Homo sapiens: one gene and its partner. The protein of the gene in region 1 interacts with the protein of each later gene in a biochemical or structural test. Each region holds a gene or a part of one and is shown on either strand. Other genes may lie near its edges.

What was found.
Region 2: the proteins of KAT6B (region 1) and RUNX2 form a complex in vitro, tested with the Homo sapiens proteins (one study listed by BioGRID).

Annotation. Positions count from the first base shown.
Region 1 is NC_000010.11:74,829,062-74,840,681, reverse strand, and holds part of KAT6B (histone acetyltransferase KAT6B), read right to left. Parts: intron 2,000-11,620; 5' UTR 1,930-1,999; exon of another isoform or gene 1,899-1,929; intron 1-1,898. UniProt on the Homo sapiens protein: Histone acetyltransferase which may be involved in both positive and negative regulation of transcription. Required for RUNX2-dependent transcriptional activation. May be involved in cerebral cortex development.
Region 2 is NC_000006.12:45,329,017-45,340,636, reverse strand, and holds part of RUNX2 (runt-related transcription factor 2), read right to left. Parts: intron 1-11,620. UniProt on the Homo sapiens protein: Transcription factor involved in osteoblastic differentiation and skeletal morphogenesis. Essential for the maturation of osteoblasts and both intramembranous and endochondral ossification.

The DNA of each region.
Region 1 (11,620 bases):
CCAGTCCAACCTCTAGTTATCCAATAAAAGATCCCTGCCCAATATCCCAAATAGATGGGCAATGAGTCTTTACATTTTTAAAATACTTCCAGTGATTGATAATTTGTCACTTTTTGAGGCAGCTCACCCCACTGTTGCACAGCTCTAGCTAAATTTCTTGCTCAGAGAAGCAAAAATCTGCCACCCCATAACTTCGACCCTATTCCTATTCCTAACTAGTCCTATTCCCTGGAAGGATCCCAAGACAATTCTTAGTATTTCTTCAGTATGAGAGGCCTTCAAATGTCCAAAAACAAGTACCTTTTGAAAACCACTAACGACAAAACCCCATGCTACCTCCAGCCATAACTTAGACCACTCATATCCCAGTTTCTTAACCCTTCCACATATCACATTGTTTCAAAGCACCACTTTCTCTTGGTTGCTCACTAGTTTGGCTATTGGCCATCTTAAAATATGACAGTTCAGGCATTATCCAATTATAAATGCAACCCAAATTACAGGAACTTCCTCAATACCCCTGCCACACAAGTGGTCATGGTGAGCATGCAGTCCAACTAAAAATCCCAGATCTTTTTTCAAAAAGTGCTGTCAAGTTGAGTCTTTCCACCCCTTTCCTTCTGCAAATTGAAATGCTGCAATTTAACGTTTATTACCGTTCAATTTCATCTCGTTGATTTAAGCCTATCTTCCAACCTGCTAAAGATTGTTTTGAATCTTGATTCTGTCATCTATGTCATCTACAAATCTAATAAGTACTCACTTTTGTTTCATTATATAAACCCTTGACAAAAATGTTAGACTTGGAACACAGTGTGTTTAGGAATGAAATCACTGGCTTTCACAGTGCAACCACTTTCAGGATAGAACACAGAATCATTCTCTGTCAGTTAGTTTAGAACAGGAAATTGATCTTTCCCAAGTAAAATGGTTTCGGGCAAAATTTCATTAGAAGATATTTCACTGTATCCAAGTAATTATTTAATCTTTCATCATTTATTCAGGATGAATCACAACTAATTTAATTTGATTGCACAAAATACAACTGCAGAAAGTAGAAGAGGTCACAGGAAAAGTGCCCAATATTGCCAAGTTGCTTTTAGGTGTTTTGTTACACAAGCAAACGAACGTACATTAAAACAAAATGCATAGCCGGGCGTGGTGGCTCACACCCGTAATCCCAGCACTTTGGGAGGCCAAGGCGGGTGGATCACCCAAGGTCAGGAGTTCAAGACCAGCCTGGCCAACATGGTGAAACCCCGTCTCTACTAAAAATACAAAAAATTAGCCAAGCATGGTGGCATGCGCCTGTAATCCCAGCTACTCAGGAGGCTAAGGCAGGAGAATCGCTTGAACCCAGGAGGCAGAGGTTGCAGTGAGTCGAGATTGCGCCATTGTACTCCAGCCTCGGCAACAAGAGCGAAACTCCATCTCAAAAAAAAAAAAAAAATGTGTTTCATAACTAATAGATACCTAAAATATACCTTCATGACAAGCTTTTACCACAATCATTTTTTTTTTTTTGGGGGGCACAGAGTCTTGCTCTTGTCGCCCAGGCTGGAGTGCAATGGCATGATCTCGGCTCACTGCAATCTCCACCGCCCAGATTCAAGCAATTCTCCTGCCTCAGCCTCCCAAGTAGCTGGGATTACAGGTGCCCACCACCACGCCCAGCTAATTTTTGAATTTTTAGTAGAGACAGGGTTTTGCCATGTTGGCCAGGCTGGACTCAAACTCCTGATCTCGTGATCCGCCCACTTCGGCCTCCCAAAGTGCTGGGATTACAGGCGTGAGCCACTGCACCCAGCCCACAAATCTTTACCCACAATCATTTATATCCATAAAACAATTGTTTATATCCATTACCAACACATTTCAATAAGATTGTCATTTTATACCTTAAAAATGTAATAAAATAAGGGAAAGTACCAGAATTGGAACTTCAAACGTTTTAACAGTCCATGACAAAAATGGAGATTATCCAGGTCTTCAGGCAAATCTGCCAAAAGAAAAAAGGAAATGTTCATTTGGACATAAGGACATCCTTAAATTCAGCAACCATCCGTGTATCTCCACAACCATTCAAGACAAACAGCTCCAATGAGTTATTATACTACATTTGGTGATATAATAATTCTTTTAGACCACTGAAGGATTCTTATAAATATGAAACTTGAGACAGAAAATGAAGCCCCAAGGACCCAGCCAAGTGCCTATAGAAGTAAATTTCATCCCTAAGCCCAGACCTGTTCAAATTTTAAAAATCAGGTTTGTGATAGATTCCTAAGAAAAAATCTCATCATGGAAAAACAAAACAAAAACAAAAACCCACTACTACTCAAATAGCCAAACAGATATAACATTTATCAGAAAAAAAGACAGTCAAAAGTTGTTTTAAGGTCAGCATTCACATTCCTGGGCAGCATTCGCTGTTTGTCCCAAAGGCCACCAGGCACCTAGGTACTGAATGGACTACCCAGATATGACCAATAAGCTCACCTACAAGAAAAACGTACCAGTTTACATAATAGTAAATATGTATTGACACAAGTCACATTTTAGGACAGCAGTGATTATTTTTACTTGAAAAGCAAAAAATAAATTTAAAAGAACAATTGTGAATAACTGCATTTTGATCTTACGTAAAACAATCAAGCAACCTTGGATCCTCCTTCTCCCCTCCCCCAGCCACGACACACACCCCACTCCTCGATTTAATCTCAAAATTAGCTCTCATCTGACACCAACCAACAGAGTTAATTAGGCAGAAGCAGATGTAACTCAGCAGCTCTTTGCTACAAGCAGAATCACAGTGTTCAAAAAAAAAAAAAAAATACACAGCTAGGAGAGGAACAAAATCAGAAGTCTCTTATCTGTAGCCAATTCTCAACTAAACACATGTATATTATCCACTTTGTATATTATCCACCGCAAATTTTTTAATCTTAGGCTGATTTGTTTCCAACATCCCACTGGCCCCACTGTAAATTCATATAAGCAAGAGAATAGATTGAAAACCAATTTCATTTTAGCCTAAGCAGTATCTAACTGGAAAGACAAATCCACAGGAAAAAAAAATGCATAATTCATTCAAAAGCCAAATAGAAATGATTTTTTTTTTCCTGATTTGGAATTATCCACACTATTTCTCTTTTTCAGAGCATGGGGATTTGCTTCACATGTAGATAGGACATTCTATCACAAGCGAAAACCCTAAAATCATTATTCTCTTTTCATTTTTTTTCTATAAAAACTTGAAGGTTGGACTAAAAGGCTATCAAAAAGGTAGCAAATCATCCTAAATTAATTCTGGGGATTTGTGCTACATCAAATTAAATTATTCTATTTTCTAAGGTTGTGAATCATTTTATTTTTAACTACAAAATATCAGTAAATTATATGGTTGTATCATACGGTCTTATAATATAACACTATTTACATCATTCATTACAAATATTCTAAACATATCTAGAGAAATGCTTAGTCCAGCACTGAGCTTTTAGCTTCACTGGTATTACATAAACATCAACACTATTCAGAAATATTCATGTCAGCATAAGAAGAGTCAAAATATCCTGGATCATAAGTATTATGCGAGGCCTCCTCTAAGCTTTTACTAAAGCTGTGTGTGTTGTTTCAAAATCAATGTCATAACACTCAAGTCATGAGATTATGGATGAGGCAAAAAACAGTGGTAGAAAAAAACAAAGATTAATAATAGAGTTTACACTTTTGTCATCCTGAGTTTTACTTGCTAACAGTTATTTTTAACTATTTTACTTTCATAAGTCCTGGCTTTTTCTTTCTTTTTTTTCCCCAAAGGGATCACTGTTGGAAAACCTGGATTTTTTCAAAGCCCATTGTGTAACTGAGTGAGCATCCACAAATCTAAGCAGTATCTTCCGAAACAGAACAGAACTGTTTAGGGGAAGGGACCTTGACTTATTTTTCTTCTATCAGCACCCAGCTCAGGTTATTGGCAGAGTTGCTCAAAATAGTGTCCTTGGTTAACAAATATCTGTTGTCTGACAACATGAAACGCCATCCATATGGTGATATTTCTTATCTTTCAAATCCTGGATGCATCTATTTCCTCTGAAATCAATGCTTCAGGCCCAAAACATGTGAACTGGGAGGTGAGGTTATAAATACTAATCAAAGAAAAACCAACAAATATTTAGCGAGCTGATGCTCCCTGCATGCAGCCCTGTGGTAGGTACTATGGGGAATACAAAGCAAAGCTAGAGACAGAACATATAAGAAGCAATTAAGAAATAGCAAAGCACTGTTTGGCGGTTCCTCAAAAAGTTAAACACAGAATTACCATATGGTTCTGTAATTCCATTTCTAGGTATAGACTCAAAAGAATTGAGAACAGATACTCAAATAAGTACACGTACACCCATGTTCATAACAAAACTATTCACAGTAGCCAAAAGGTGTAAACAGCCCAAATGTCCATCAACAGATGAACAGATAAACTGTGGTATATCCATACACTAGAATACTATACAACTATAAAAAGCAATGAAGTTTCGATACATGCTACTACAATGTAGATGGACCTCAAACACGTTATGCTGTGAAAGAAGCCAGACACAAAAGGCCACACATCATATAATTTCATTCATATGAGACATCCAGAATAGATAAATCCATAGACAAAACACAGATTGGTGGAGTCTCAGGGACATATCTAGAGAAACTGCTTAATGGGTAAGGGGTTTTATTTGGGATCAATAAAAATGTTTTGGAACTTGATAGTGGCAGTGGTGACACAACACTGAATGTACTAAATGCCACTGATTTGTTCACTTTTTAATGGTTTTTTCATTTTATGTTATGTGAGTTTCACCTCAATAAATTGTTTAAAAAAAAAGAAATAACAAAGCACTAAACTATAATAATAATAATAATACCAACCATTTCCTGACACCTACTGTGGTCCAGGTACTTTACATAGATTATCAGTAAACTTTAAAACAACTCTGTAAGGTAGCATTGTTGTTTTTACAAAAGGAAAACAGGCTTGACTTAGCCAAGATCTCAGAGCCATTAAGTCATGAAGGATTTTAATTCAGATGCCAAAGCCCAAACTCTTTCTGTCTCTCCAGAGGTTTTCAAACTAGGCTCTTTAGATCTCTGTGACAAGGAGTTACTTCGGGTATTACCTTCAGGTACCCCTTGTGGGTTAAACTTTGGGCCATTGCAGCACCTTGAACCCAACAGTGCAGCTCCACTTTAACTGTTTTACATATATTTGTCTTCCCCATAAGATTCGCTTTAAAGGAAGTGTTCCTCTGATTACAGAAGGAAGAAGTCTGGAAACAACTGTGACTATACTACCTTGCTGAAACCACGTGGAGGATGGATGAACATCTCTTGGATGGATGGGACTGAAACTGAACCTTGAAAGATAATGCTGAGCCTGGATAAGTGCCCCACCGTCCCTCTGCCCAAATTCAAATCCTTCATGGCCCAGTGCAAACAACTTCTCAAAAGCCCCAAACATCTTTGTCTAACAGGAAGCTTTTAGCTTTTTTACTGTTTTGACATTCATTTCCCACTTAGTATTATGCTTACTTGTGTATTAACCTTGTCACCCCTACTAGACTATAAAATTCTTAAAAACAGGATTCATGCTTGATTCATCTTTGTATACCCTAAGATTTCCCAAGACCACAACTTGATCATAAGAGGGTTTCAATGCCTATTTGCTAAATAAATGTATCGGGGAATGAATGAAGGAAATCAAAGTGAAATAACAGAAGCTAAGAATGAGCTGTCAAACAAAAGGGACACCAAGTCCATGTGCCTGACTAGAACAGGTATATGCTCAAAAGGGATAAAGAAATTAAGTTGGGCCAGGCACAATGGCTCATGCCTCTAATCCCAGCACTTTGGGAGGTCAAGGAAGGAGGATTACTTGAGGCCAGGAGCTCGAGACAAGCCTAGGCAACACAACAAGACCCTACCTCTACAAAAATAAAAAATTAGGTGGCTGTGGTGGTGTACACCTGTAGACCCAGCTACTCGGGAGACCGAGGCAAGAGGATCTCTTGAGCCGCCCAGGAGGTTGAGGCCACAGTGGGCTATGATTGTGCCACTGCTCTCCAGCCTAGGCAATAGAGCAAGACTCTGTCTCTAAAAAAGACAAATATAATTTAAAAATGAAAAACAGAAATAGGCCAGGCACAGTGGCTCACACCTGTAATCCTAGCACTTTGGGAGGCCAAGGCGGGCAGATCACGAGGTCAGGAGATTGAGACCATCCTGGCCAACATGGTGAAACTCCATCTCTACTAAAATACAAAAAATTAGCCAGGCGTGGTGGTGCATGCCTGTGGTCCCAGCTACTCGGAAGGCTGAGGCAGGGGAATTGCTTGAACCCCGGAGGTGGTGGATGCAGTGAGCCGAGATCGCGCCACTGCACTCCAGCCTGGCAACAGAGCCAGAATCCATCTCAAAAAAAAAAAAAACAGAAATAAAGTTGGCTGTGAAAAAAGCCAAGCTGTGGTGTGTGAACGTGACAGATGAATAGGAAGCCACTGCAGGAGCAGGTGACACCATAATGCACAGGGAAGGGCATGCACATACACACACAAACCTGTTGAATGTTTGAATCACTCTGGCAATAGTAGCCATCTACTCTGGAGGGAAGGGTGATTGAAAGAAAAAACAAAAGCAACCAGTATTTCATCTCTGCAAACATCAATCTTGTTCAACTTATATTTATGAGCCTAACTCAGCAGCAAGCCCAGAGCAGGCACTCAATAAAACGCTGGTTGAACTGAATATTTAATTCCCCATCTTTTTAGAGTAACACTAAGTTCTTTCCCACTACTCATTAACAAAGAGAGTTTTCAATTCATAAGCTAATAATGTTTTCCAAGGATTTCTAAGAGGCTAAATCACCATAAAAATTATCATTTCAACTAATACATATTATATTAATTGCAAGTTTAATTTTTCATGTCATGCTCTCCTAGTTGACAATATCCTTGTTATGTCATTAAACTATAATTGTGTAAATGTGCTTCAACAAACAATAACTGAACCATCAATAAACTATTATGGTTTCCATAATCCCTAGCAAAGATTAGTTTCAACATCATCATCATAAATTAGTAGAGACAGGTCCCAAATCTCCTGGTGAAACCCATGAATTAGGTTTGCATAGTTATCCCTGCATTTAAGTGCTCAATAGTTTCAGTCTCTAAAATTTAATCACACTGTTAGGAACCTCACAGGAAATTTGATCCCTTGTAAAACAGAGGAATTTAGAGACAAGATGAAAAGTCATTTGAAGTCATCAGGTCTTTGGAGCCAGGGTACACTGATTAGTAATGATGTATTATAACTAAGCACTTTCACTTAAGAAATAATCAACTAAATTTAGAGTGTCTTTTTTTGGCATTTAAAAATTCCTATTCAATCCTAGATTTCTCCCTAATTACAAATTAGCTTTAGTTGGTTTTTGATGACAAAGACCGAGAATAATGTATTAAGGGAAAAAATGTGATTTTTTTTTTTTTTTTTTTTTTTTTGAGACAGAGTCTTGCCCTGTTGCCCAGGCTGGAGTGCAATGGCGTGATCTCGGCTCACTGCAACCTCCGCCTCCCGGGTTCAAACGACTCTCCTGCCCCAGCCTTCTGAGTAGCTGGGATTACAGGCACATGCCACCATGCCATTGTTTGTTTGTTGTTGTTGTTTTTATTTTTAGTAGAGACGGGGTTTTACCATGTTGGCCAGGCTGGTCTCGAGCTCCTGACCTTGTGATCCAGCTGCCTGAGCCTCCCAAAGTGCTGGGATTACAGGCATGAGCCATCATGCCCGGCCAAAAAATGTGATTTTTAAAAAACTTTTTAAAATAGAGATACAAGGCCAGGCTTGGTGGCTTATGCCTATAATCCCAGCACTTCGACAGGCCAAGGCAGGTGGATCACCTGAGGTCAGGAGTTTGAGACCAGCCCGGCCAACATGGTGAAACCCCATCTCTACTAAATACAAAAAATTAGCAGGCGTGGTGGCGCATGCCTGTAATCCCAGCTCTTTGGGAGGCTGAGGCAGGAAAATTGCTTGAACCCAGGAGGTGGAGGTTGCAGTGAGCCAAGATTACGCCATTGCACTCCAGCCTGGGCAACAAGAGCAAAACTCTATCTCAACAAAATAAATAAGATAAAATGAAGATACCAAAAAATCTAAATAAATAAATAAAAATAGAGGCGGGGGTCTCCCTATGTTGCCCAGGCATGTCTTGAACTCCAGGGCTCAAGGGATCCTTTCACTGTAGCCTCCCAAAGTAGTGGGATTACAGGCATGAGCCACTGCACCTGGCTGAGAAAAATCTGACATCTTAACTTTTTTATGATTCTTTTGAAAGAGAGATTATTACAGGATTCTTTGTTAACTGTATTACAGATGTCTTCAGACCAGATATCCAGATACCCTGAAAAATTCAGGTTCCCTTTTGAGAGTTTCATAAATATTATAGCTCTACTCTAAAAAATAAGCACATGTACCCATATACACTGGTATACATTTTTAAGGGTTAACAGACCTTCTGTCATCCAGCCATGGACCACTTAAGGTCCACTGGCTATATACAGAGAGGTATTTTATCCAGTTTCACAATAGTTAGCTTTGTGTGCTTTACTTAAGGCATGTTACATCAAGAGTAAGAAAGTTATTCTTTTTGGTTTTGGATGTTATCAAAAAACAGGTTTCTGACATTTTAATCAACAAGTAGGTGTGCTGTGATGGGAAGTATCAGAGTCAGGGATCCAGTCCCCATTCTGCTAGCTACCTAGGCTAGGGGATATTGGACATGCTACTAAATCAATCTAAGTCTCTGTTTTCTCTTCTGTAAAAATGAGAATACTTCTCTGTTTTACAGAACCGTTAAGAGGAATCACTGAGATAACAAATATGAAAGCAGCAAGGATGATGGCAGACACATAGCAGGAACACAATAAAATGCTAGCTCATAAAAGGAAAAAGGGCAATACAGTCAGCTGGAGACCTGTAAAATCTAATCTGGCTGAACTTCTGTCTATATGACCATTTTCTCCTAAGAGACAGGAGAAGTCAGCACCTGGCTCTTAGTTATAGCTGCAGAGAAGTAAAAATTCAAGACAGAGAACAGAAAAAAGTGAAGGAAAGCAAAAATAGATTGTAATGGTGAGGCTGGGGTCAAGAAGAGTGTATTTTACTCATAGTTATACATTGTTTAAGGTCAACAAAGCTTTAAAAAGATAGTACTGCATAGGAGAATATCTTATTGACCTCAGGGTAGGAAAAGTCTTAAAACAAGACACAAAAGGCACTAACCATAAAGTAAAGACCAATAAATTTGACTCCATTAAAATTAAGAACTTCTGTTCATTAAAAGACACCATAAAGAGAGTGAAAAGGCAAGCCACAGTATTTGCAACACACACACATGACAAAGGACTTGTATTCACAGTAAATAAAGAACTTCTAAATAGCAATAAAAGATACAAGGCCCAACTTTTAAAAGCAGGGTGGGAAAGACTTGAACAGAACTTTATAAATGAGGCTATCTAAATGGCTAAAAAAGTATATGAAGAGCTGGCCGGGTGCAGAGGCTCACGCCTGTAATCCCAGCACTTTGGGAGGCCAAGACGGGCGGGTCAACTGAGATCAGGAGTTTGAAACAAGCCTGCCCAACATGGCAAAACCCCATCTCTACTAAAAATACAAAAAATTAGCTGGTTGTGGTAGTGGGCACCTGTAATCCCAGCTACTCAGGAGGCTGAGGCAGGAGAATCGCTTGAACCCAGGAAGCAGAGGTTGCAGTGAGCCAAGATCACGCCACTGCACTCCAGCCTGGGTGACAAAAGCAAAACTCCGTCTCAAAAAAAAAAAAAAAAAAAAAAAAAAAAAAAAAAAATATATATATATATATATATATATATATATATATATATGAAGAGCTGTGCAATCTGATTACTAATCAGGTAAACGCAAAATTTACCATATTGGCTAAAATCATAAAAGCTAAAAAGGCTGAGATTGGAGAGGGCGAGAAGCAAGGGAATTCATATATTGCTGGAGGGAGTGTAACCTGGTACAATACTTTAGAAGAGTTTGGTACTTAGTAAAGATGAAGACAAGCATACCTTATGACTAGGTGACCATACAATTCATCATCTAACCCTAGATACTTTTGAAAACTAAAAGTGTTACAGTTACGCTGGGAAAATAAGCAAAAACCAGGACAAATGGTCACCCTAGCTATAAACCGGCAATTTCATTCCTAGGTGTATACCTTAGAGAAACTTGTGCACATGGGCACCAGATGACAGGTATAGGAATGCTCATAGCAGCTTTGTTCACAATTGCCCCAAACTTGAAACAACTCAAATATTCGGCAACAATGGAATAGATGATACGAAAATTGGTGTATTCTCTTTCTGGGGTCTGCGAGAAGACAGGTATCAGAAGATCATGGGAGTTCTATAAAAAGATGCTTAAAGGTGCTTTGGAAATGCAAATTAAGGCATTAAAGGGAAGAAATATCCCATCACCCCACTTCTCTCATCCACGCATCATTTACCATTCTGCAACAAAGACTGATCACTACAGCTTACACATCCCTACTTACATAAAATATTTTTCTTTTTTTTTTGTTTTTTTTTTTTTGAGACAGAGTCTCGCTCTGTCGCCAGGCTGGAGTGCAGTGGTGCAATCTCAGCTCACTGCAACCTCCGCCTCCCAGGTTCAAGTGATTCGCCTGCCTCAACCTCCTGAGCAGCTGGGACTACAGGCGCCCGCCACCATGCCCAGCTAATTTTTTGTATTTTTAGTAGAGATGGGGTTTCACCATGTTGGCCAGGATGGTCTTGATTTCTTGACCTCGTGATCCATCCACCTCGGCCTCCCAAAGTGCTGGGATTACAGGCGTGAGCCACCACACCCAGCCACATAAAACTATTTATTTAATCCCAGCACTCTGGGAGGCCGAGGTGAGTGGATCACCTGAGGTCAGGAGTTTGAGACCAGCCTGGCCAACATGGCGAAACCCCACCTCTACTAAAAATACAAAAATTAGCTGGGCACATGTCTGTAATCCTAGCTACCCGGGAAGCTGAGGCAGGAGAATCACCTGAATCCAGGAGGTGGAGGTTGCAGTGAGCCGAGATCGTGCCACTGCACTCCAGCCTGGGCAACAGAGCAAGACTGTCTCAAAAAAAAAAAAAAAACTATTTCCTTTTCTCTCAGTACAAATGTAGGCATGTGTAAGCACGTGGAAAACTGAGGGTACACTGTAGAGAACTAGGAGACTGAAAGCCAGATCACTTAGTTACGTCTTTTACTAATTGATACGTGAAAGTCCATGAGAGCTTATGAAGCACATTAAAATTATTAAACTTCCTCATCTACTTTCTAATACTCATGCTATTTACCTTTCATTCATGCTATGCCTCACATCTGACAGTTTCCACCCAATCTTCAAAAGCAGTGTGTGAAATAAACACATGCTATAATAGCAATGACATAATATCCACTCTACTCAGAAGCCTAAGTGTGGCTAGTAAGCAAAACTTCCTCTGCCGACCGTGTCATGACCATCAGCCATTCCCTAAATTCCTCTTTT
Region 2 (11,620 bases), on another chromosome or scaffold:
AACTCGACCTAAAGGCCAGGTGCGGTGGCTTATGCTTATAATCTCAGCACTTTGGGAGACTGAGGTGGGAGGATCGCTTGAGCCCAGTAGTTCGAGACCAGCCTGGGCAACATGGCAAAAACCTGTCTCTACAAAAAATTACAAAATTATCTGGGCGTGGTGGTGCGTGCCTGTAGTCCAAGCTACCTGGGATGCTGAGTCGGGAAGATCCCTTGAGCTCAGGAGGTCAAAGTTGCAGTGAGCTGTGATCATGCCAGTGCACTCTAGCCTGGGTGACAGAGTGAGACCTTGTCTTGAGGGGGAAGGGGGCTTAACAAACCTCACCTTAATCTTATTCCTTGATATACTTTTATTTTTTCTTAATCTCTTTGGTTCTGTCAGATTAGTATTTCTTAAAGATATGTGGCAGGGTAATTTGAAGACTCCAGGATTATCTTCTTGTTTGTATTTTATTGGTTTAATAACTTTAGAATAATTATGTTTCTGAGAACTAACACCTTTACAGATGAAATTGATTGAGGACTAGGAAGTAACTTCATTTAGATCATGTATAACACTGTAAAGTGGTAATTAAGAGTTAAAAGGCTTGGGTTGGAATCCCATCTCTTCAACTCTGTAACCTTGAGCAAGTTCCTTTACCTCATTCTCAGCTTCCTCATCTGTAAATAATTATGATACATGTCTCATATAAGGGAGTTGTAAGAATTAAAGGAAATAATGTTTATAAATGGCTTAGCATAGTACCCGGTACAGTAAACGCTCGACAATGAAAGCTAACAAAGTACAGTTTCAATTAAGGTATACTCTATAAAAATTATAGACTATGTTAGTTACATTGATTTTTCAAAATATGTTGTCTAATTAAATTAAAACTTTAATAAATTTTAAATAATTTAAAACAACATTTAAAATAAAGTTTTGGATTAGATTGATTATGTACTTAGAATAGCTATTTGAACCTAATAGAAAAATAAGAATATTAATGTTTTTGGCTATAGTCATCTTATGGAATCCTCTGTACTTCTTATTTTCCTTATTAATATAGCTTGTTAAACACAACTTTATTTTTCTTATTAATATTACTGGTTAAACACATAACCATTGACTATCACCTCTATTGGAAGAAAAGGAAGGAAAGAAAGGAACTAATTTTTTCTTGTGAACAAGCTTTACAAATGTTTATTGGGGACACAATTTGGAATTAATATATTTTGGATATGCATTTTGTCTTTAGCTTATTTCTAGGAGTATTAAAAGTTGGCTATCTATTGGCTCACAATCTTGGCTAATTTATCTAGGGAGTTTTGTTTTAAAAAAGTTCTGAAGGCTTTCTCTCCACAAGCTGCTCTTCCCCAAGACTTACTCCCCAGGTAATTCTGTTGATCAGCCAGATTTGGATACCACTGTAACATAAGAAGTCTTGTATAGGCTAGTGAATTCTTTAATGGAATACTCTTTCAATCCCTTTTTTCTTAAAGCCTTATAGTCAAGTAATAAGATTACTTAGCCTTATAGTCAAGCAATAAGGCCATAACTATCTTAGTTTGCAAGATATTTATGGCAAGTATGTCTTCTTTAATGTAAATATTCTTATTTTTAATTTTTCTTCTTATATTACCTTATTTCTATGTTTTATGTCACCCTGCTTATTACATGTCATTTTATACTCACATGAGTGTAAATAGTTTATACTTATGTGTCTTCAGCTCAGGACTAGAATTTGTATGAGGCAAGCAAAGTGCCTAGGGCACAAAATTTAAGGAGGCTGTCTCTTTGAGGACTGTGCAAGAGTGAGTACCTCCTTAAATTTTGTGCCCTGGATGCCTCCCTTGTCTCATCCAGAGAAATAGGCTGCATATAAATTATTTTTATTTTAGTTTAGCATAATCTCATGCATACTTGGATGTTTTATAAAAAAATTGATGACAAAACGAAATAGTATAGCTGAACCCAAATTTATATTGCCCAGTATAAAAATAAATTAACTATTTGAGAAAGATAGTATTATTATTTTTATCACATGGTCAGTAACCCTCAGAGCTTCCTAAATTCCAGTTCAGCAGAATCTTGTTTGACACTGAAATACACTTGGTTGTTTTACCTACTGGCAGCTACCTGAAATCAGTGCTCTTGTAGCTGTCAAAGTTTCTTAATTCAAAATATAGTACCATCAGCTTTTTATATAAGCTTATATGTGATCATTTGAAGTAATCAGAAATGATACCAGTTTTATTGTATTTTTATTACTGATTTTAGAATTTCTTGAGAAGTTGCCTATAATTTTTTTTTTTTATGAGAGCTACATCTGGAAATGCTCAAAAGTTGTTTGCCTTTTTTGAGAGAACAATCTGCAGTGAAAGTATAACTTCTTTAGAGGTGATGTTTAAGTTAGCAAATGCTGAACCATAATGTGAGGAAGCATAATATTGTGAATTATTTGGCAAACATACCTAATACAGGCATTAGCTGTTGAAACCATTTGTAAAGTACAACTTACAGAAAGCTAGAAAGATAGGCTACACAGAACTTTATCTGTAAACTCTGAGGATGAAAACTAGAGTACAACTTAAGTTTATTCAATAAAGACTAAATTCTGTAAGTTTAAGTTTGATTTGTTTATAGGTTCCATGATTAATGTGTAATTAGAGTATGAAAGAAGCATTTAGAATCCTTTAAAATTTATAGGTGATAACATCATTGTCAAGTCAGGAGTTTTGTTTCTTAAAGTTAGAATTTACTTAAATATACTTTTTCTCTAAAAAAATAAAATCTTATTTCTACTTACAGTAGTACCAAAGTGAGTTTTCGCAAAAAGAATTATTTAATATGTATTTAATATTTGTTTCAAATAAACAAAAATAAACATAACAACCAACAGTGGAGGGGCGTCTTAGATTTGTTTTTAGCTTTCTTTTTCATGGCTTCTAGAAGTGTATCATATTATAAATACATTCAAAATGTTTTGCTCTGAGGATATGTAGCATTCCTATAAAGGTTAAATCAATAAAAATGATTTGGACACATTCCTAAGCATGGCTAGAACAGGTAGTCCGTTGTTTTAGGTACCCTTGAGTTTCTGGAGCAGATCATTATGGCGTAGCAAAAGAACTTACTAAAAGTTGCTTTCTATGTGTAGATGCATCAGCTTAAAAAAATAAGATTTTCTGGCCTTCTAGAAATGAGTATTTTTAGAGTAACCCTTGTATATATTGATTTAATTATATATTTTAAATGCAGTTAAAGTTTTGGAGCTTTTTTTTCTTCGAATGCTGGAGATACACCATAATTGATAAGGAAGAGGTACGTACAGGAAAAATGCAATGGCAAGCTTTTCCAGCAAATTTAGAATAAATGACAGTCTTATGGTTAAAGAAAGTATCACACATTATAATTGCAAAATAGGGATTGGATGTGATTCTTTTTAGTCTTGCCAGTTTAGAAAAAAATTCTGTAAGTCATTGGCATGTTGTTCTGTTCATATGGGCAGTTCAAAAGGCAAGCTTTAATTTGAGCTTTTATTTTAGAAAGCATATGTATATCTCCTATGTTCGGGGTTGGCTTCTCACTATATTATTGTTGCTATGTAGTTTTATGCATTTGCTTGCATTTTTTGTGTTCATGTCATAAGTTTTAAGTATGTAAGTTTTCAGATCACACTGTTTTCACAGCAAGTTTCAAAAAATATTTTTATGCCAGTTTATAATAATGAGTAAGGCCATTTTTATTAAAGTTTCCTTTAAAACAGCATTTAAGATGTTTCTGGATCAAAAAAATTAAGTGAATTGACCATGTATTTGAATGAAGAAAGTTTAAAACAGAGGTAGAAAATTTGAGTTACATGTATTATTAATGAAGTTATATTATAGAAAATCACTTCCTATCTTTTTGTACATCTAATATGTATTTACTTTGTAAGTAAATACTTTATTAAAAATACTGTGTTACAGTATTTCTTGGAGCACAGGATTTAATTTTATAGTCAAGAAAATTGTTTGAATACGTCTGAGTAAAAATTTATTGTACATATATAGAGTGGTTTAACCATTTAATAATTAAATAATTTAGCAATTTAAGCCAAGTATTTTGATGTTTTAAAAAATATTTAAGTGTATCTTGATAGATTCTGATTTTAGTGTGTCTTGTGTCTTGATAGGACCAGAATATTTATGAAAATAAAAATAAGCCTAATAATCAGCACATGGCTCTAAATTTTCTTCCTGGGTACTTGTGAGTGATAATGTTAAAAACAGATCACTTTATGTGTTTTCTCTAGTCCTATTGGTGTACAAAAATATTCTGCAATATGCTTATGCGTGTTATAAGGGAGGGATATTGTTAAATCTTTACTACATAATCAAGAATAAAGCTTTCGTGACAGTACTCATTGTCCTTATCTAGCTAACACTTTTAAAATGAAGTGGTTACTAGTGGTAAAAAGTTTTTAAAATGTTAAGTTTTCCTTCTAAATTACAGAGAGAGAAATAATGTATATGTGTTTGGTTTTGAAAACTGGGAGAATAGAAGAATTCTGGGTGGACACTGGAGTTTATAATATGTGAAAAGGAGTTTCTTCTGTGGAAAGGAGGTTGGATTAATGATCAAAAGTTGGAGTACATTGACTTGTATATTTCCATTTCTTTAGAAATACACTGTAGCACATTGTCTTTGTAAGTAGTATCTCCATAGGCATTATCTTCTTAAATATTTCATTTTTGCATTGACTCTTATAAGAGCAGTAGCAAGTTTTTCTGCATTTTGTCAAAAGCTGAATTACCGAAATGCTTTACAGATTTCATGAGAGGTAAAAAAATTAATCTTATTAGATTATCTTTTGTAACCATTTATCCTGCCTAATGTTAAGATGCTGTTGTCTTGATGGGAGTTTTCTCATAGATTACTTCATGGTGTCTTAATATTTTTGAATTGGGTGTTAGGTTCTTAGTATGAAATGCTTATGTACTTTCACAGGTATCAGCTTTATGGAAAACACAGTGATTGATATAATGTGGATTGTTAGCATAAAGAAGTTTCCTTTCTGTGATCCTGTACAGTTGTTACAGATATCTGTAATCTGACAGTTTATGAAATAAAATGAGAATTTACTTTTATCTAAAAAAATGTATTTTAATGAGCTGTGTTTGCATTAAAGTATCTTATAATAAAATTGTAATTGATTGAAGAGAATCCATACTGTGTACCTTTTTGATACACATGGATTTTCTAGGATCGTTATAGTGATACAGCAGTAGGTTGACATGTTGTAAAATGTAATACCATATTACATAGTAAAATAAATGTCATGATCCTTTCTTTTAAGCTTCAAAGTAAATTCACATTGTTTAGATACATTTAAATAATTTGTAATCATTTAGTAAAATTATATCTTTTCACTTAAAATTATATTGGGAATTTGAAGTCTTAAACTGGGAAGTTCAGTACAGAAATTTAAAAAGAAAGTTAATTCTAGCAATTATCATAGAAAAATTAGAAATTCAATGCTTAAATTGTTTACCCAGGTTACATGGTCAATGAGAAAATATACCTGTTTAGCTTCAAGCCAGAGTTGTTCTTTGAGATAATATTTATAAATAGGAATCTATTAGCAAATTAATTCCATTCATATTTGCCCTTATAAACTCTAATACTTTGTTTAACTGATATCAGTTTTTAATTATTGTTACTTAAGTTTATAACTGGAAAATAACATCTTTGGATTTTATAAGATTGATTATTTTAGTCTTGAAATTCCTAGTAGATGCCTAATCCCTGTTACTGGTTTTATAGATTGACATTTGTTAACTTACATGCAAAAAAATTTTGATTATATTTCATGACAGAACTATAGTACCTCAGTTACATAATTTACAATTTTTTTCCTGGTTTATAATCATTATTACAAGTTCTGTAGTCATTGGTGTGAATGCATTCACACTCATGCATGTGTATATGCCATGTATAAAAATGTTAAGACAAACATAGCCAGAAGAAATTTAAGTTGAACATATATGACACGTATTTTGTTTCGGTGTAAAAATACATCGTGTTCATGTGAAGTTCTGTGGAATATCACGTTATTATTCTGATATTTCTAAAGAAAGACTGCATATATATGTATTCAAACCTTATTGATGATTGTTATTGTGATTTGGCTAGCATTTAACTTTGTCTTTTTTTTTTTTTTTTTTTTGCTTTTCCTGAAGCACAAAATAGATGTAGGTGTAAGATACATGACTATAAGGAATATGTAAATAATGGTATGGTTCATGTAATTTAGGGGAACCTACAAATGTGTATTTAAGTTCTTGAGTTTTAACTTAGTCTATTATGTAAATATATGTTTATAGTTGATGGTATATAATGATTCTGGTAGACATCATTGATGTAAAAAATCGATGTAACTGAAATGTAAAATAAAATTACCTTATTTGACTTTGTGGTGAAAATTATTTGCCTTACATAGGATATTTAGATATACCTTTTTAGAAATGTCACTAATCTGATGTAACTAATGTATAATTAAGAGAATTGGCAATAGGAATAGTAGAGATAAAAGAGTCTTTAAACTGTTTGCCAAAATAATCTTAGATATATTTCTGGGAATAATGTTAACTTGGTAAATTTTCTAACATCAGTATGATAATTTTTAAATATCTCAAACATTATCGAAATTGCGTATGTATATATGTCAGAGATTTCCTTGTTTTGTGGGCAGTTGATTTAAAAGATGAAAATCATCTAATCAAGGTAAACATTTATCTTTTATTTAGAGCTCAAGTCACCCTTGGTATGATTTTTGTTCCTTGGGTGTATATTGGATTTATGAGTATTAACAAGAATATAGAGTAGAGGAAGTGCATGAATAACAATTTTTTTCTCTTCATGTATTAAGTACTTATGTAGCAACTAGCCTTTAAAGGCCTGTTTTAATTCTACAGCTCATCTTATTTGGGGATTGTTTTTTATATCAGGTTAAATGATATAAAAAATGATTGTTTTTTATATCATGTTAAATGATGCAGTTTCTGTTTATTAGTGTTTATGAAAAACTTTGCTTTAGTTAGGCTTCTTTCTATTCAGCAGTAACAACAAAACCTAAAGTGTTTGATAACATGTTGCTTACATCCACTCAACACTGTTCCAAATCTTGAGTCCTATGCCCTTAATAAATAGTATAAAGGGGAGGAAATTCCTAAGAATTCTACATAAAGTGAAGATACTGTATACAGTAAAAGAGCATTTAATCTGAATTGCTATACAGGTCTTAAAACAGTTGTATGGGAATGTATGGTCTGTTTCATGTGTATGTGCTGTTGAATGGACAAAAGCTTGTGGTTGACTGTGGTTAAAAATGTAAGGAAACTCCCTTTTAATAAGGTATAGAATTTCCCTGTTATTTTTTGAATCGTAACACATTAATCAAAAAATATATCCAGTGAATTTCATAATCTTTTTGAAATGGCAAGAGATTATATTAAGGCATAAAATTTCATTATGTGAGACTTCTTTTAAAGATTTGTTTTAAGATACTAACATCTCAGATTTGATGAAGAATTTTCACATGCTTTAGACAGTTAGCTTAGAATATTTTATTATTTAGAAAATACCAAGTATTGGAGTTCATTGTTATCTTTATTATGGGAGTTTTATGATTTTTTGGGGGGTGAGGAGAGGCAGAATTTTATCTATCTTCAGTGGAAGTTGCAGCGTTCATTGGTATAGGAGAAAAAATAGTACATTAAGGTAACGTATTGAGAAGTCTCTGCTTAAATTACCATTGGATCTGCTAGCACCTGATTAGTAATGTCTGACTTGTGAGTGACTAGAAAAAATAGTTATGCTTTGCCATAATTACAATTTTAGTATTTGCAGGAAGGATTTTTTTCACATTGAGTTGATGGCATTTGTCTATTTGGTCACATGTTTTTATATATTTTTAATAGATGCTATAGAGGTAGACTGTTTCGGTGAATCCTTCATATAAAATGTCTAAAGATTTTTGTTAGGTAATAGTATTTGCAGTTTTAATGCATTTAATGAGCTTTTGCATGACTTCACTATTGACTTAGAGTTGTCATATCTTAGTATCCTAGAACAAAGGTTAGAACAGTATGGAAGATTGGTATTTGTATGCTTTGGAGAGGGATTTGAGATGTTACCCTGTTTTGCCGTCAATTTTCAAGTATGCACGGGTGCATCATTAATCATGAGAAATGCAAAAATAAATAATATAGTCCCATTGGATTTTTTTCTATGAATACTTACCTTTTCCTTTTTTTTAAATATATATATACAGTTGAGGTATTTAGGTAACCCCTAACCTTTTGCTTCAACAAAGAAGTACAGTATAAAAATATTACCACAGTTTTCATGTGAGCAGCTCTTGAATCGGGGGGAGGGGGAAAGCCCTCTAGATGAATATTTGTTGAAAAAAAAAGTTGTGATACAGAATGTCTTAACTCAGCCTCAGTACAGTACTTGAGGACCACCAGTGTGTAAAATTGAAAGCACATGAATTTTGAAGCACTAGAAAAGGTTTGTAATTGATTAGCGCTGCTTTAAAGTATTGGAGTACAGTGAGTTTTGATTTGTGAATGGTTCTATTCAATAAATATTAATTCTGTGTGTTTGATAAAATCTTAGTGCCTTCAATGAGTTAGCTCCCCCCGCCCCTGCAGTTTATTTAACCATCAAATATTTCAGTGTTCTTTTAACAAACTGGAACATTTCTATCTTACCGAATTTAACTTTAGCATGACTGATTTAAACAAGTCAAACTATCAGTTGTTAGCTGGAAGAGAGTAATTGAATAAATTAATATTTTGTTCTTTTAAGATAACTAAAATATATCATAATGTAATCATGTATATTTCATGCCTTGTGATATAGAGACGGATTGATCAGGAGAGTCAGACAGACCAGCCAGATCTTTTTCCACAATTTCTTTTCAGTGTTTTAGATTTCAAAACATTTTTTAAAAATAAAAACTAAAAATCTTTAACAGTTTGTAATGTAAAATTAGGATTATTATAATTTAAAATAATTTATATGAGTCTTTGGGAATTACTTTGACATTTTTAGCTTTTGATATGTGTTAGAGTGATTTTCTGTGTTTGTTCTTAACTTTGTAATTCTGCTCCCTAGTTTTGGAATTTAGCTCTGTATTTTAAAAAGAAGCTATAAAACTTTGTCACTACTGAATCTTGAAACTATAAATATATTATTGATATGGACCACAATTGCTGTTTTGGAAATCAGTGTTCACACATCATGTTCAAGCAGTTACAAAGATTTTATGTAGATAATCAGTCAGCTGATATATTTTCATGAGTCATTAATTTTAAGATACTCTATGAGTCACATCTGTGATTTTCAGCAAGCTATATTTATGATAAATGATGGACAGATTTTGAGTAGTACAGATTGAAAATTTTTGATTAACTCAAAGTGAAGTATGCTGAGAGATCAAGGACACAGACATACTCTTTCTCTAGCATGTGCGCGCGCGCGCGCACACACACACACACACACACACCACTCATTGTATTTGAGGTGAAGCAGTTGTTAATGTGTGCTTTGTACCTCACCTAGGAAAATCCTAAACTTTCTTTTTAACTATTTTACAAAATTGGGGCACATACTTAAGACATTTCATTAGGTGGTGGTGATAATCATTATATAAAAATCTAAAGCCTGAAGTGAGGTTTTAGGCTTTGCATAGATTATAGAATGGGGAAATGTTTGCAATGTGATAACATATACATGATGTCCACTACTCACCTGTAATTAGTCTGAGGTAGTGGGTTGATGTTAAGTTCTCTATTCAGGCTTCAAGATACTGTTTGGGGGCTGGCGGGGAGGGAAGGTGCAGCCCACTTTTCAAAAGAGGAAGAACTGGTTGTAATGTTGGAAAAAAAAAAGGTTCACTACCATGCCTTGCTTAGAATCCTGTCAAGTTTTGGAAATTTTGAATAGTTATTAAGAATGTTACAGAAGTATAAGATCCCTGTTATGATAGAATAAGAAGCAGTTTAATATATTCTTTGTGAGAATTTTAACATATTCTTCATGATAACTTTACTTCTAATACTGAAGAATTTTTTGAAACTTGTGTTGTTCCTGATCTGGTTTTTAAAATGTGTTTAAAATAAATAGTTAAACAGAGTGATAACGTGAAAGAGTAACTTAACTGCCTCTGTTATCCCTCCCTGATATCTCTGTTATCCCTGTTTCAAGTTATCCCTCTGTGTAACAGTAGTTTTAACTATTCTTTTTCCTTTTATCTCTTGGGTAGTAGTAACAAAACTTTCGATGTATAAGCTGTAATTATGCTATGTGTTGTAATGTAGTCTAGCTGTGTTTATGTCCTGCTTCCTTAATATAGAAGTTTTTAGAGTAATACTTGGTACCCATCATTAAAATTTTAAATTAATCTGTGATTATTATATTGTATATATTATAACTGAGGGGGCCCACTTACAGCTATTGAGGGAGTCACTAAAGCAATTTTACATTTTTTTTTGTAAAATACAAAGTACATTTCCTCACCCTGTAAGAGAAACCATTTTTTCTCCCTTCAGGTTTAATTATTTCTGTTTGACCTAAACTGAGACTGATCCTCTAGTAGTATCCAGTTAAAATGTGTGAAGTAGGAGGAGTAAAGGAAACTCCAGTCATTAGTTGTAAGTTAAAAGCAGAGTTAATATAGATGTACACAGCAAGAAGGTTTATTTTAATGGATATAAGAAAAATTTTTGAAAACTTGCCTTGTAGTTGGAACATGTTGGAGATCATAAAGAGAATCTTGTAAGTGTGTTTAGATATTTTGCTATAATAACACATCAGCTGATGAATGTTAAAGTCATTTACATATCTGTATCAACAGTAACTTGAAATTAAATATTAAGGGACAAGATTATGCCTACTTCTTTTAAAGTCCAGCATGGTTTAATAGTTGTGGCTTTTAAAAATCATACAGGGTATCCTTATGGAGCTTTATTTTTCATGAGACTAAACAGCAGTTATTCATTTTGGTAGGTCCAAGAATGTGATTAAAAGAATCTTAGACGTTTCAGTGTTTCAGTGTGTTTATAACAAGGTCTATGGATAACAGTGTGTAGATGTAAAATTAAAATTACATAGAAAAATGCAGTTGCATGTAAGTTTTAAAATACTTCCATGAACTTTTTAATATCCTGGGCAACTATAAAGATCTTTTAAAAATGGCTGTGATGTGCTTATCATAATTTTATTTCAGCTGAATGTATACTTATATAAAGTTGTTTAGAAACAAACTTATTTAGATAGGATACAGTTTGAATTTATAAGTAGATTTCTTTTAGTTGAGCTGGTTAAAATGTTAACTGTACTACAGGTTTATTTCTGTGTTATACATGGTAGACCATAATGTTGAGATAATTCTGTGGTCTGTTATTTTGTAAAATTGCTTCCTTTTTGAAGTTTGCTCAAATATTGGGAGCTGCCGGAGTCAATAATTTATAATGCTTTGATTAATTTAGGATCTGACTTTTCTTCTGGTGAGGGTTAATGAGAGTATTAAACTGTTTCTTTTACTGTTTTCATATCCTCACCTCTATAACTCTAGAAAACATTTTGATCAATG